2 separate regions of the Homo sapiens genome follow, and region 1 is linked to region 2. A link means that fine-mapping ties the variant in region 2 to the expression of a gene that starts in the linked region. Tissue or cell type: whole blood. Region 2 holds a variant in brackets; the other region holds the start of a gene. All regions are shown on one strand. Distances are from middle to middle.

Evidence for each region. PIP is the estimated chance that this variant, and not a neighbour inherited with it, causes the effect.
Region 1: AKAP13 starts here. The variant in region 2 is fine-mapped to the expression of AKAP13 in whole blood (TOPMed, PIP 0.93).

Annotation. Positions count from the first base shown.
Region 1 is chr15:85,379,428-85,382,111 of GRCh38, reverse strand. AKAP13 (A-kinase anchoring protein 13) reads right to left here and starts at 1,509. Exons shown (of 37, transcript NM_007200.5): 1 at 1,314-1,509. MIR7706 (microRNA 7706) reads right to left here and starts at 1,516; the gene lies at 1,450-1,516. RefSeq lists silencers at 805-972, 629-1,198, 1,579-1,658.
Region 2 is chr15:85,692,015-85,694,698 of GRCh38, reverse strand. It overlaps AKAP13 (A-kinase anchoring protein 13), which reads right to left. Exons shown (of 37, transcript NM_007200.5): 17 at 1,248-1,422. Among named protein-coding and RNA genes, the nearest start is that of LINC02883, 65 kb to the left of the region's middle. RefSeq lists enhancers at 1,430-1,479, 1,920-1,969. The variant T/C (reference allele first, on the strand shown) is at 1,218.

The sequences.
Region 1 (2,684 bases), 310 kb after region 2:
AATCATGTTCATATAATAAGCCACACAAACCAAATTAAGTGTAATATGTGCACCCAAACTTGACAAAACTTGTACTTAATGCAGCCTGCAAATCCCCAAGAGTCCACGACAGAATACAAGAATAGTAACAATGATTTATCTCAACTGATCTTAGCTTCTTCACAAACTTGCCAATAATGACCTTTCAAGAACTGCACCGTTTGTCCTCATCTGCGCAATCCAACAGTTCAGAAAAACTGAAGAAAATGCTTCTTCTAAAAATAAAACACTTGTTGTGGGGGGGACTACTAACAAAAAAAAAGGCACACTGGTTTTTACTGTACTGAAGCAATAAACTCTCCAAATAACTTCATTAAGGAGTGTCATTAGCAAAGAATGAACACCAAAATACCGCTCAATCCAATTTTCATTGTGAATTCCGGGATCTAGAAAATTAAATGGGACGGTATCACTCTGCTATAAGAACTATTTCCAAAACAAAACAAACCTATCTACCCCCTTTCTTGATTTTTTTTTAAAAAGTTTTAGGGTTTTTCCTTTTTTCAACTTCACATACTTCGTGGCTTTGCAAAAAAAAAAAAAAAAAAAAAGCAGTAAACCGTATTTACCAAAAAAAAAAAAAAAAGTTTTGTTTGGTATCAAAGTATAGCTGCAAGCTGAGCCGGCTGGCTGCACGGGTCCCAGAGCGCGTGGGGACCGCACGGGTCTCCTGGGCCGCTCGCCTGCGACCCGCGCGGGTCAGCTGGGCCGCACCCCCGAGAAGCCGCGGAGAGGCACCGACAGGCAGGCGCGGCCCGACGTGTTTACCGTCCGCGTCGACCCCGGGGAGCCGCTCCCTCGCGCCCGCAGCACTTGTTCACGGCGCGGACTCCACGGCGGGGACTCCACACCGCGGCCGCCCGCCCCAGGGGAGGAGTGAGCCCGCCCCGGCGGCGCCGACCCGGGGACCCGGGGCAAGGATTCGGGGCCTCGCTGGGGGCGGAGCGCCTGAGGTAGCATCGGCGGCCGGGCGCGCCCCCCACCCGGAAAGCGGCGACGGCCTCTAAGTTGGGCTGCGGAGTGGGAGGCGCGCCGAGCCCCAAGCAGACAATGCGGGAGAAGGGCGATGCGCAGGGAGGAGGGGTCCGCAGACCTGAGGTCCCGGCGCCGCCCGGCGACCCGTCTGTCCAGCCCGCCCCCGAAACCCCCGCAGCCCCCGCCCCTCCTCCGGGGCCCGCCCCACCGAGCAACCGCAGGGGACTGGCCGCGCTCCGCGCCCCGACCCACAAATCACAAAACTTCCCCCAACTCCGCCAACTAAGTTGCGCTCTCACCGTGCGGCTCCCGGGGCTCCCCCGCGGGCCGAGCTGGGACAACTCTTCACCTTCGCCGCGGAGAAAGACAATAGGCGGCCGCTCCCCCGGAGGCGGCTAAAGCGGCGGCGACCGAGGCGAGCAATGGGCACGGCAGTCTCGGCAGAGCACAGGCGCTTCACCGCGGCTGCTCGGGCTCCGCGCTGGCCCTGCACACAGCTCCAGTCCGCGCATGCGCCGAAAGACGCTCGGGAGGGTGGGCGGGGCACGCGGGAAGGCGGTAACGCCTGCGAGTCCTCCCGTGAGTACACGCGGAGCAAGAACTGCGAGCTGGGATTGCACGGCAGAACTGCCCATCTCGCTGCATGAGACCAATAGTAAGGCTCCTGGACGGGGCACTCAGGTTGCTAAGGGAGGCTGAGGTTGACCGCCGCTGCTGCTCGGCGGCAAAGTGATCAAAGTAGGGTGGCTGGCAGAGGCTGCTCTGGGAAATGCCCACCCACGGTCTCCTCTCCGCCCTGTCTCCAGAAACCGCCCTTCCTCTGTGTACTGGTGGTTACCTGAGCTGCAGCACTTAACCACACATCGTGAAATGATTTACTCCTCTATTTCCCCCACTTCAACTCAGGAAGTGGGGTTTAGTCTTCTGTGTCCACAGCCTAGGACCGTCTAAGGTATTAGGTATTAAATATAGGTATTAAACAAGTGTTGGATGGATGCACGGCGCTATGGCGGAATCACAATTGTGACAGTGCATTCCGTGAACTTCTGGCTACTCGATCACCACAAAGTCATTCCGTGTTCGAGCTGCAAAGGACCTCAAAAATCATCTGGTTGCTTTGGGAAACAAAATGTGGTCCGTGTACCAATGGTGCCGGTAACCACCGGCCCACAGAGGAAGGGCGGTTTCTGGAGACAGGGCGGAGAATATATTAGTTGGTACACGAAGAAACTTCTTTTTTCAAATAGTTAAGTGTTTTTAGTGCGCATTAGGAGGGAAATGCCTATCACGTCAAACCACTGTTTCATTAATGTTATTTCTTAGGTCAAATAAAAAGTGGCAAAAAACGAAAGCACTTCAAGAAAAGTGTTAAGTAAAAAACTGAGACAATTTATATGCAGTTGAAGAACGTGTAAAACTAGTTGATAGTGATTGAAGTAAGAACAGCGGTTAGGTAGGAGGAGAAGATTATTGGCTGGGAAGGAGGAGGAGGGAACCCTCTGGGGTGCTGGTTCTGTATTTTGACCTGGGTGATAGATAACAAAAGTATATACATGAATAAAAAATACATCCAGTGCACTTTAGTGCACTTTGCACATTTTAAACATGTATTTTTAATGTCAGTTTTCAAAAATCTGGTACAGGATATTACCCCCCCGCCCCCAAAAGAA
Region 2 (2,684 bases):
TGGTATGCTCTACAAATACTACTTTTGATCTGTGCACTGACAAAATTTTGAGATGCACTGCCTTACAGCAAAAACGTGCAAATTATGGTCTGTGGGCTAAATGTGGCTTGAAGCCTATTTTTGTATAGCCCATGAGCTAAGAATAATTTTTACATTTTAAATAGTTTTTAAAAATCAAAAAACTATTACATAACAAAAATTTTATGAAATTCAAATTTCAGTATCCATAAGTGAAGTTTTATTGGAATCACACTCATTGGTTTATGTATTGCTTACGGCTGCTTTTGCACTGCAACTGCAGAGTTCAAGAATTGTGACAGAGACCATGTGGGTCACGATGCCTAAGATACTTTTTATCTGGTCTTGTACAGAAAAAGTTAAGCAACTCCTGCCTGAGAGTGTCTTATCAAAACCAGGAACAATGCTCAGTTAGCAGACTTGGCTTTCAGCAGGTCAGCACAGAATGTCCCTGAGCACGGAGGTGCTCTCCCTTGGCCGTCACTATGGCTTAATGTTGGTAATGGCTGAAGCATATACCAAAGTAATAGAATAAAAATGAGCACATATGATCTAACAGAAGACCACTGAGTAGCTTTAGGGTTTGGGGTTATGGATAATTTTGATGCTGACACAGACTTTTAAAACGTGCAGTGGTTTAGAGATCATAGAACAGAGTGCAGATGCTCCTCATCCTTTCAATGAGGCTACATCCACATAAACCCATGGTAAATTGAAAATACTATTAAGTCAAAAATGCATTTAAATACACCTAACCTTCTGGACATCATAGTTTAGCCTGGCCTATCTTAAACATGCTCAAAACACTTACATTAGACTATAGTTGGCCAAAATTATCTAGCACAAAGCCAGTTTTATGATAAAGTGTTGACTATCTCATGTAATTTATTGAATACTGCACTAAATGTGAAAAACGAAATGAGTGTACCAGCACTCAAAGTACAGTTTCTACTGAACGTGTATTGCTTTTGAACCACTGTAAAGTTAAAAAGCTAGGCTGAACCATCTTAACTTGACTGTATTTGAAATTGGGGCTGTCTGAAAAAAATATAGGCTGTATGTTATACATCTAGAATTTCTTTCTTTTATCATGTCTAAAGAAAGATATAAAAAGGGTTACTTCTCCACATAAATGAGGAACAGATAATGAGTGGGGACAGGAAACAAGAAATGAGCTTTCTTGAGCCAAGAGAGTTCCA[T/C]CTTACGAGAGGAAGAAGCATGTCTCTTACTTGCACAAGTATAGGCATCTTTGTTGGTGAAGGGCTTCATACACTGGCTACAGCTGATGGGACCCACAACAGGAATGGAACTGAAAGTGTGCCCGTTGACAGTCTTCTTATCTTTCTCCTTGTCTTTAGAATCTTTCTCCTTCTCCTTAATCTTATCTTTTTCTTTTTCCTTTTCCTGCCGAAGAAAAGAAAATAATCCACAGTTAATTGAACACTGGAGGGCTTTCTCCTTACCTGGGCACCCAGATGGCATGTGGTTAACAACAGCTGGTGACTATTTTGGAAAGGAGTGAGAAACAAAGTTCTGGGCAAAGTGTTTTGTTTTGTTTTTTTAAATTAAGGCGTTGGCACGCAAGCTACATTAGAAAATTCACACGAAAACTGGGCAGGCGGAACAGTTCTGGCAGTGGCTTATTCATTGGTTACTTCTACCAACAGACACAATACCCAAGGACCAGCACTGCAAGGAGGCTTCTGACACCTCAGTACAGCCCTTCCTCAGCAAGCTACAGCACAGTCCACACAGGAAGAGAGTCATGGGTTTAGGGCCAGCTTTAGGCAGAGGGCAGAAAAAAGGGTGGCAGCAATTCTGGGATCAGCCTGAGGGAAAAAAAGATGCCTGGGTGGCATGAAAAATTACCGAGGCTCCTCTCTTTCTCACATCAATTGCATATCCCTAAGTGACGGAGTATGTATAAAGTCTCCTCCTTTACTCTAGTTAGAAATATTAAATATGCCCCACATATACATTTTCAGTTTCTGCTAATTAGAATTTTAAGGTTTGTAAATATTAACTTTGCCCTAATTTTCAAACCGGCAAGAGGAGACTGATAAGAAGGGGAGGCTGGAAAACCGTACAGTGGTTAAGAATACGGACGATGGTACCAGACCTCGGTTCAGATTCAGGTACTACTACCACTACTACCACTACTGCCACCACCACCACCACCACCATCACCACCACCACCACTACTACTACTCAGTAATAGCGTGACCCTAGGTAAATTATTTCTCTGAGCCTTAGTTTTCTCATTTGTCAAATGGGAGTAATCACAAAAGTACCCATCTCATATGTTTTTTAAAACATATGACAATTAGGTGAGATAATACATTTCTAAAGCATTTTGCACAGTGCCTGGCACACAGTGAATACACAATAATGCTTAGCAATATTATTAATTACTCATAATTTACTGGAAATGAGTTTCATTAGCTCATTATTCTCCTAAGCCAACACAGAAAGGTATTGCTTGCAGTAAGGGAAAGGAAGTTTTGATGTGAGCAGGGAAGATAGAAGAAATTGGGGAGTGGCTAAAGGACAACGGTGCAGGGCAGGGAGGATAGGAGAATGCACGGATGACAGGAAGGAGCCTTGTTAATAATTTTTCTCAAAAACCACCTTTGTTGTTCCTCAAGCTAGATACCAACAGGGTCACT